Linked DNA regions of Homo sapiens: all the other regions are reported to be linked to region 1. The links are microRNA targets in miRTarBase. Many come from high-throughput screens and were not tested one by one. Region 1 holds a microRNA gene; each other region holds the end of a gene's coding sequence.
The links. Region 1 holds the annotated microRNA hsa-miR-6814-5p (UCCCAAGGGUGAGAUGCUGCCA, at 2,121-2,142, shown strand). A microRNA usually pairs through its seed, bases 2 to 8, with sites in the 3' UTR of a target mRNA and lowers its output. Matches are read on the target gene's strand: a 7mer-m8 pairs with bases 2 to 8, a 7mer-A1 pairs with bases 2 to 7 and ends in A, and an 8mer does both.

Region 2: miRTarBase lists ANKFY1 as a target of hsa-miR-6814-5p. The part of its 3' UTR that is shown has no 7-base or 8-base seed match.
Region 3: the mRNA of FBXO44 is a reported target of hsa-miR-6814-5p. Seed matches in the 3' UTR shown: 7mer-A1 at 414-420.

What each region holds. Positions count from the first base shown.
Region 1 is chr21:41,745,807-41,748,956 of GRCh38, reverse strand. It overlaps MIR6814 (microRNA 6814), which reads left to right and starts at 2,116; the gene lies at 2,116-2,185. RIPK4 (receptor interacting serine/threonine kinase 4) reads left to right here. Exons shown (of 8, transcript NM_020639.3): 5 at 2,186-2,344; 6 at 3,095-3,150.
Region 2 is chr17:4,165,372-4,168,371 of GRCh38, forward strand. ANKFY1 (ankyrin repeat and FYVE domain containing 1) reads right to left here. Exons shown (of 25, transcript NM_001330063.2): 25 at 1-2,540. The coding sequence ends at 2,408. Among named protein-coding and RNA genes, the nearest start is that of CYB5D2, 24 kb to the left of the region's middle.
Region 3 is chr1:11,660,926-11,663,925 of GRCh38, forward strand. FBXO44 (F-box protein 44) reads left to right here. Exons shown (of 6, transcript NM_033182.7): 6 at 205-2,402. The coding sequence ends at 348. Among named protein-coding and RNA genes, the nearest start is that of FBXO6, 1.8 kb to the right of the region's middle.

The DNA.
Region 1 (3,150 bases):
CTAGTTTTTTTGTGGTAGTAAAATATATATAACATAAAATTGGTCATGTTAGCCATTTAAAGTGTATAATTCAGTGACATTAACTACACTGGCAGTGTTGAACAAGCGTTACCACTGTCTAATTCCAGAACATTCTCATCATGCTAGAAGGCAAAGCCCATGGCCATTCTGCAGTCCCTCGCCCTTCCTCCTGCTCAAGCCCCAGCAACCACTCACCTGCTTTCTGTCTCCAGGGGTTTGCCTGTGCTGGTATTTCCAGCTAATTCTTTTTTGTTTACTTTTTAAAAAAATAGTCATAAAATACACAGAACAAAACTTAGCATGTCAGCCGTGTGAAGCATACAGTTCAGGAGCATTACATGTACCCGCGTGCTTGCGCAGCCAACCTCCAGAGCTGCTCAGTGCCATGGAGTTGCTTGCAGGAGTGGCACCCCTGCCCAGCTTGAGAGCTGTGGTGTTTGCTTCCCCAGCCAGGCAGCCACCATTCCGAACACCATCCTCAAAGTTGTCACACCTTGACTTACTTATCATAAAAATCCAGGACTTTTTAGCTTTGTTGGACAGATTCCCTTTTCCTCTAAAGACATTTCTGGGCTACTCATGATATTTTGTGGTGTGACCGAAAATGTCTAAAAATGAAGATGAGAGTCAAGGCCTAGCCCCTTGTTAGTCGGGGCTCAGACTAGGAGCCGATGTATGGGAAAGTGCTGGGGTGAGAAGAGATCTTCCAGCATCGCAAGATCAAGTATCTTGGCAGCTTTAAAAGAATGTCAGTAGAAAGCACAGAACGCGTCCTGCCAGGCCTCTGCTGGCCGGTGTCCGTCTGTGTTGTCTGACCGCCTGTCGCCTTTCTTGCCTTCTGTACGTTCTCCCGCACAGTGGCCTACAGCCCGAAGGCTTGTGAAATGAGGCAGTGTCTGATAGATGTGACACCCGAAGCTAGGCGCAGGGGACAGGTCAAGGCTCAAGCCCTTGTGCTTTATTGCTGAATATGCCTAGTGTTCCCTTATTGGAACGCTAATCATATGGGAATTATTCGTGTCCTACTGTTCAAGGTCATCGCCAAGGTCTGATTTTTCAAATTCAAAAAATTGCAACCTCAGGCAAAAATGGGTAGGAGGGGGTTCAAGGTGCAGGAGAACAAGGCCTCTCCCCAGCTTTTCCAGTCTGTGCTTGGCAGCAGGAAACATTCCGGGCGTTTACTTCAGTTTGCTTCCATTTTATTTAGAGGAGCTGTTGGTTTTGAAGTCTGAATAATCATGGAAATAGCCTGCTAAACACTTAACGATATTTATTGCACAAGATTTAATGGGAAAGTGGAGCAAAACATTGTATGGAATCCTGGCAGCCGTGGGTGATTCTCGGCTGATTTTCCACACCTGCTGAGGCACATGGCCTCTCCAAAGAGCTGCCATTCCATGCGTGGGTGTGTTTGGATCTGGAGGGCAGAGAGGGCTGTTGGGAACAAGAACCTTGAGGGTTCCAGGCTAAGCAGAAAAAAGAACTTGGCCCACTGGATGTCACCCTGGGCCCTTCCCAGTCAGGGTAGAAGTTGTGGCAATAATAATAATAAGCTAGAGCCCATGCATGCTAGTGAAGGCAGTTGGAAAGGACAGGTGCGGCCCCACATGGTGAATTGAGGGGAAAGAGCCCTTCCACACATCCCAGCCCTGGTGCACCGGCAGGGGAGGCCAGCTGGGGACCTGAGCTTGGGATTGGAGTTGGAACTGAGGAAGACTTCTTCGCCATTGTAGAGAGAGTTGGGTCTCTGTGGATGTAGGACGCTGTGGCTCCTCCATGGTGCGTGAGCCTCATTCCCTTTGCTGGCTTGGGCTGTTGATGGAATGAGCCTCATAAGATATTGTTCTCCTTTGAACCTCATCTTCCTTTGGATGGGATGCCTAGAAAGATCTGCTCTGTGACCAAACACACTGACTCCTTCTGGTAGATCAGAACCCAGGGAAAGAGGTCGATTTCAAAACCAGGAAACTAGAGAGCATGGCGCACCATGAGGGTGAGGGTTACAGGAAGCTCTGCCTTTGAAACGGAGTGGGGGAGCCGTCTCCCTGGGGTGGTGTGGGGATGGCCCCATTGTGGCCCCCGGCGAGTGTGTCGTTTCCTCCCAAGGGTGAGATGCTGCCACCCAGCCCTGCAGAGCCCCTGACTCGCATCCTTCCCTTGGCAGATGAGAAGAACATCCTGCACATCATGGTGAAGGTGGTGAAGGGCCACCGCCCCGAGCTGCCGCCCGTGTGCAGAGCCCGGCCGCGCGCCTGCAGCCACCTGATACGCCTCATGCAGCGGTGCTGGCAGGGGGATCCGCGAGTTAGGCCCACCTTCCAAGGTGAGCACCCCGGGGTCTCCCCGCCACATTCTGTGGGTGTCACAGGAGACAGAGGTGACAGACAGGACAGGGTGAGGGACCAGGCCTGGGTGAGAAACAAGGCGTGTAACAGGTGGGCCGAAATGAGCCCTGCACAGATAGGTTGGACCCAGCACCTGCCTGCGGCCTCTGGTACTCACGGCTCGGCCACGGCAGCTGGAACTGAGTTGCCTCCAACCATCCGCCCCCTGCTCCCCACCAGGGTTGGGCTTGCCACCCAGAGGAGTCTGTATGGGAGCCTGAAGTTCAGGTGCAGCCATGCTCTTCCCGGGGACTTACCTGGCCGGTGGCCGGCGGCGTCGCCCTTCTCTTGAGGAGTTGACTTCCTGGGACAGATGTGTCTCTGGCATAGGAAAGTCACCCTGATGAGATGGAAACTGCTGCATTTAAAGCTTACGGCAGGAAACGGGCTGAATGGGGAGCTCATCCGCCAGGTGCTGGCAGCTCTGCTCCCTGTGACTGGCAGGTGGCGCTCCCCCGGGGAAGGCTTCCGCCTTGAGTCTGGTGAGGCCTTCAAATGATTACCGATGGGGGGGCCTGGGTTTGGCCAGCAAATTGTCCATGTAGGGCCCCTGGGCTTGCCTGGTGAGCTCAGGCTGGGCCGAGGCGTGTGAGAAATCCCCCAGCTCGTGGGGGCCCTGCGTTTATATGGAACGCGTGTGTACGCAGAAGTCATCATCCGAGTGACATGTCCCCTTTCTTCCCCACAAGAAATTACTTCTGAAACCGAGGACCTGTGTGAAAAGCCTGATGACGAAGTGAAAGAA
Region 2 (3,000 bases), not on the chromosome of region 1:
TACTTAAGCTACTGATGAAAACTTACAACAGCTAGGCAGGTTTGTACGCAAGTGTTGACAGCAGGGAGAGCACGGGAAGGGCTGGAAGCATGCCTAGTCCCAGCCAGGGCAGGGCATGTTGGAGTCAGCTCCCACTCAAGCAGCCTGCTGAGTGCAGCCCAGCGAGCGTCCGCGTGGTCGGGGGGCTTCCTAAGTCTGTGGAAAGAGGCTTTTCCTATATCCACATGGATGCGCCCTGAAGCCAATGGAAAACAGGACTCAATGTTCTCCCAGTCCATAGCTGGTCAGTACCATTGCTATCCCTGGACTCAGGCTTAGAAGCAAGTTTGAATCAACATATTTGAAACATGATCTTAAGATTCTGAGTGCAATGACAGGCAAGATTGTTATTGAAATTGGTATGGTAGGGCATGGGCAGAACAATCGGCCTCACCCTTGACTCATCTCCCACATTCCTTTTAAAGAACAGGTATCCATGTACCAACCACTTCAATTCATATCCGAATCATGATTCTCTTACTTTCTAACTTAGGTAACCAAGCTACCTAAGCCCTGCCTGCTTCCTTATGGCCCTTTCCAGGTAATAGAAAATGGAAACTGACCACATGCCTCACATGGCCAAATGTTTGCCAAGACTAGCAGAGTTTTTCTTTTAAACATTCTGTATGAAATATGTCAGACTGGGGGACGGGGGATCTCTTCTAATTCATTGTTTTTCTTTTAAACATTGTGCACAAGCTTATATTCACATAGAAAGCATATACATCTTATAAATCACAGACTTTTTTTTAAGTAGTACTCCAGTTTATCAGCTCATTTTACACACATATTTAGGCAACAGAATGTATAAATCTACCGCAATACAGAGGACACACTATCCAGAAAAGAATGAACAAAGAACAGGCTGTTGCAAAAATATTTAGTCCCTTTACACATATAGTCAAACTTCATTAATGCAAAAAAATGTAGTGGTTATTAAATGTCTGAAAGAATCAGTATGTATGATTGAGATTGTTAATCTCTGAGTATAACACATATTGTTCATCTCAGAGTTGTTTTGTTTTAAAGCCGTGGTAGATGCTTCTCTTTAAATGTGCATTTTTTAGAAACTGGCCAAACCTTCAAAAGAAAAGTTTAACACCTCACGGTTAATATATGTACTAACAGCGATGAACGCCCAACAAGTTCTGGCAGCCTCATCCAGCACACAAGCCAGAGACTTCCAAAGTAAGGTGGCGCACACGTGGCCAGGGCCCTTGGCTGGTGGCCCTTCATGGGGCAGGGCAAGCTACACAGAACTGGGACCAACAGCACTCGCAGCATCACTAGGGAGGATTTCAGCAAGAAGCATTTGTGTCAAGGACATAGGACCTGCCGGCCTGAGGCTGGAGATGCCCTTGGGGCTGAAGCCTTGGTGACTCCCCCTCTCATCACTTGGCCTGTATGAATCTCTTGCTCTAAAAGATGCTCTGTAGAGTTTTTCCTTGGAGATTCGTGTGAGCTGAGGTCCAGTCAAAGCTGATCATTAGAATCACTGATGCAGGGATGTGTGAGGGTATTTTTGAATATGGATTTTTAAATTGGAATCACCGACAATGCAGCTCTATAAAAAGTGCAGCACAGTAAAAGTGCATTTCCTCCAGCACTCTCCAACAGCAGAGTGACTGAGGACTCCACAGACAGGACGCAGCAAGACGAGAGAATGAGACGGCTGCTACGAGGTGTCAAGCGGCCCAGCTGCACTCCTGACACCTCAGTAGCATGAACACTGTAAAGCTTTCAGTTGTTAAGGCCACGATTTTTCAGCTCTCATCTTTGAACCCTGTTAAGAAAGATTTCACCTTTTTAAAAGGGGTAGCTCACTAAAAATACAGCTTAGCGTAAAAAGAAAAAAAGACTTCAGGGCAAGAGGATCCTATTATCTTTATGAAAACACTGTGCAGAAAAGTCCACAGCCACTTACCCTAGAGTAAAGCCAGCTCATTAAGCAGCCAGCTTCCTACGCTGAGAGGCTCTGCCTCATCAGTCAGCCCAGGCGGGAAGACTTCATGAATGCTCTGGGATGGACACCAAGCTACTGGAAGGGGAAATGGTTTTCCAAGTGTCCCTGTATGTTGCTAGCAGAATGGGGAGAGGTCTAATTCCTAATCACATTTACCACTTAGGCCCAATGGCCTGGTCTGATGAGTGAGACATCTAGTGAAATCGATCACAGTCTGACACACACACTGACAATCATATGGAATCATTTGAAATGGGATCTATCACACCATGGTCCTTAATCGTTCCAGTCTATTGCCGCAGGAAGACACCCGCCAGCTCCTGCTCTGGGTGGGGTCAGGCTGGTGAGCAGAGCAGCTGCTGGGGAGGTGACCAAGGACGTGGCCTGGACCCTCCGGGGGGCTCACTAAGAAACCCCACCCAGAGTCAGTACATCAAAACAAATGTTGCAAACCCGCACAGGCTTGTTCAGATCAAACTTTATAATAGGAATCTCCTTGGTCGAGCATTTATGGCAAAGAAGACGTCCGCAGTGACGACTGTGGAAGCAAAGAAAGGAAGTATGAGAGGAGCGCCAACGACAGACTCTGCTTCCTGGCACGTGAGGACAACCGCAGCAGGGCCTGGCAGCCAAGGCGCCCGCAATGCTACTCTGGCAACTCTGCCAACTGCCAGCCCGGTTACCACAATTCATGTAGAATTTTTAGTCTATGAAAACAAAACTCTAGTCAATCATCAAGTTAAAGCAATACTGAAGAAGGCTTTTTTTTTTTTTTTTGGAAGATCAAGAGCAGCTCAGGCCAGGCATGGTGGCTCACGCCTGTAATCCCAGCACTTTGGAAGGCTGAGGCAGGCGCATCACTTGAGGGCACGGGTTTCAAGATCAGCCTGGCCAACATGGTGAAACCCCGTCTCTACTAAAAATACAAAAATTAGCTGGGCGTGGTGGCGTATGCCTGAATCCCAGCTGCTCAGGAGGCTGAGGAATAAGAATCGCTT
Region 3 (3,000 bases), not on the chromosome of region 1:
CACCACCATGCCTGGCTAATTTTTTTTTTCTTGTAGAGATGGTATCTCACTCTCTGGTTTGCGACAAGACTAGTTGCAAACTCCTGGGCTCAAACAACCCTCCCACCTCAGCCTCCCAAAGTACTGGGATTCCCGGTGTGAGCCGCCACACCCAGCCTGAGTCAGCTCCCTTGACCTTTCTCCCCCCTCTACCTGCCCTGCCAGGTCTCCCACACATTCTCCAACTACCCGCCCGGCGTCCGCTACATCTGGTTTCAGCACGGCGGCGTGGACACTCATTACTGGGCCGGCTGGTACGGCCCGAGGGTCACCAACAGCAGCATCACCATCGGGCCCCCGCTGCCCTGACACCCCCTGAGCCCCCATCTGCTGAACCCTGACTGGTAAACAACTGCTGTCAGAAAAGGGCTGGGCTTGGGAAGGGGAGGTGGAGGCCAGGTGTCCCCAGACCTCTAACCCTTGCCCCTAGCAGCCTCTTCTTTGTGGAGCCTCTCAGTGTGGGCAGCCCTCGCATGCTGGGGTCGGGCCAGCTCTCCCCGAAAGGTCTTGACCTGAATGATGGCCGGGGAAGCCTGCGTGTGCCCCTTTCAGAGACGGAGCACCTGAGATGTGGGAGGTGCAGCATGTTCCCCTGGGCCCCTCAGAAAGTCGAGCTTGGAGGCCAGCCTGGATCTGTCTCTCCCTTCCCCTCCTGGGACCATTCTACCTGTGTTCTTTGACCCTCGGAGCAGGGACAGGCAAGACAACTGGCAAGCTTGCAGCTGCCCTGATGGTGCAGGTGCAGGGAGGTGACCATGTAACTCTGACCAATCTGGGAAGTGGAGGGTGGGCTCATGGGCCGTGCTCTGCCCCTGTCTGCTGCTCCCAGTCTCTCGCTCTGCCTGCCTGCTCAGAAGAGGTGGCTTTGGCCCAGAGGCTCAGGCCGGGACTGAGATGGACAGACCCAGGGTGGGGTGGGGTCCAGGTCGGGTGTGGACTGTCCTCACTGTCAGTGGAGCCCCAGAAGCTAGATGGGTACCAGGTGGGGTTAGGTTCCCAGAGGACTGAGGGAATCCTGTACAGGATGTCCCAGGGTAGATGGGGAGCAGGATTGGGACCTGCTCTGACAGCTGGACACATGAGCCCTGGATGAGTATGGTAGGGGGTTTGAAGAATCCCCTGTCCACCTCCCAAATCCAGGCCCGGCCCCCTCTGGCTTGGAGAGCATTCCAAGCCCCCACCCCACCCCTAGAACTGCCATTCCCAAGACCTCTGTCTCCCAGCCAACCACCCTTGGAACTTGCCTCTTGTCCTGCTGGAAAGATAGCAGTGTTCTCCTGACTTCGCCCTACTGCATGCAGCCAAATAAAAGGTGTGCCCAGTCTAACCTGTGCCCTGTGGTTTCTGGAAGGAAAGGCAGACTTTAGGTGGTCCTGCCTGGACCTGCAGATGGTACAATGGCATGGCTTCTGTCTAAGGTACAGAGGGGTTGGCATTTCAGGAACCAGGCCATCACAGAAACAGGTTCATGGGCAGACCCCTCAGTGAGCTGCAGGTATCTCACCTGGCAGCCGTCCAGTACTGCTGGCTTCCTCTGGAGGCCCAGCCACAGGCTGGGGTTGGGGTGTGTGGACATCTCTGGGCAGCTCTTGAGTCCACCTTGTGCCAGATCAGCAGTGCCACCCAGGCTCTGCCTCCTGGTGTTACTCTTTGCCAACAGCTTTACGGACATTGGATGAAGCCGAAGCATTTAGAATGGTGCCTGGCACACAGTTGGTGCGTGATATGGTTAAGCTTTGTGTCCCCACCCACATCTCATCTTGAATGGTAATCCTGGGTGTTTAGGGAGAGACCTGGTGGGAAGTGATTGGATTATGGGAGCGGTTTTCCCCCATGCTGTTCTCATGATAGTGAGTGAGTTCTCACGAGATCTGATGGTTTTACAAGTGACGGTTTCCCCGGCTCCCTCCTGCCGCCATGTGAAGAAGGTCGTTGCTTCCCCTTCACCTTCCACCACCATGATTGTAAGTTCCTTTTTTCTTTTCTTTTCTTTTTTTTTTTTTTTTTTTTGAGATGGAGTCTCGCTCTGTCGCCCAGGCTGGAGTGCAGTGGCGCAATCTCAGCTCACTGCAAGCTCTGCCTCCCAGGTTCGCGCCATTCACCTGCCTCAGCCTCTGGAGTAGCTGAGACTACAGGCGCCCACCACCATGCCCGGCTAATTTTGTTTGTATTTTTAGTAGAGATGGAGTTTCACCATGTTGGCCAGGGTGGTCTCAATCTCCTGACCTCGTGATCCACCCACCTCGACCTCCCAAAGTGCTGAGATTACAGGCGTGAGCCACCGCGCCCAGCGATTGTTTCTTGAGGCTTCCCCAGCCATATGGAACTATAAGTCAATTAAACCTCTTTCCTTTTATAAATCACCCAGTCTCGGGTATTTCTTTATAGCAGTGTGAACATGGACTATAATCCAGTGCTCAATAAGTACTCCTCACATTTAGCTATCTCAGTCAAGGGTGAGCTAGATAAGGGCTTTGGCCAGGGCAGGATCACCACCCACCAGCCCATGGCAAACTGCAAAAGGACGGCCTTCCACGGAGAACATGTAGCCCTGACTGCAATTAATGTGTCCTGGGCCAGTCCCCTTGTGCAGTACACAGCCTGCACAACCCTTGGTGGTTGCCTGAACAAGGTGCTTGCTAAATATTTGTTGACTGATGGAAGAAATTCATGAACTTAATCCTGATAAAAAACCTCAGAGGTTTTTTATTTTTTGAGACAAGGTCTGGCTCTGTCGCCCAGGCTGCAGTGCAGTGGTACAGTCTCCACTCACTGCAGCCTCCCAGGTTCAAGCGATTCTCCCACCTCAGCCTCCGGAGGAGCTGGGATTATAGACCTGTGCCACCACGCCCGGCTAATTTTTGTATATTTAGTAGAGACAGGGTTTTTGCCATGTTGGCCAGGCTGGTCTCGAACTCCTGACCTCAAGCGATCCTCCCCACCTCGGCCTCCCAAAGTGCT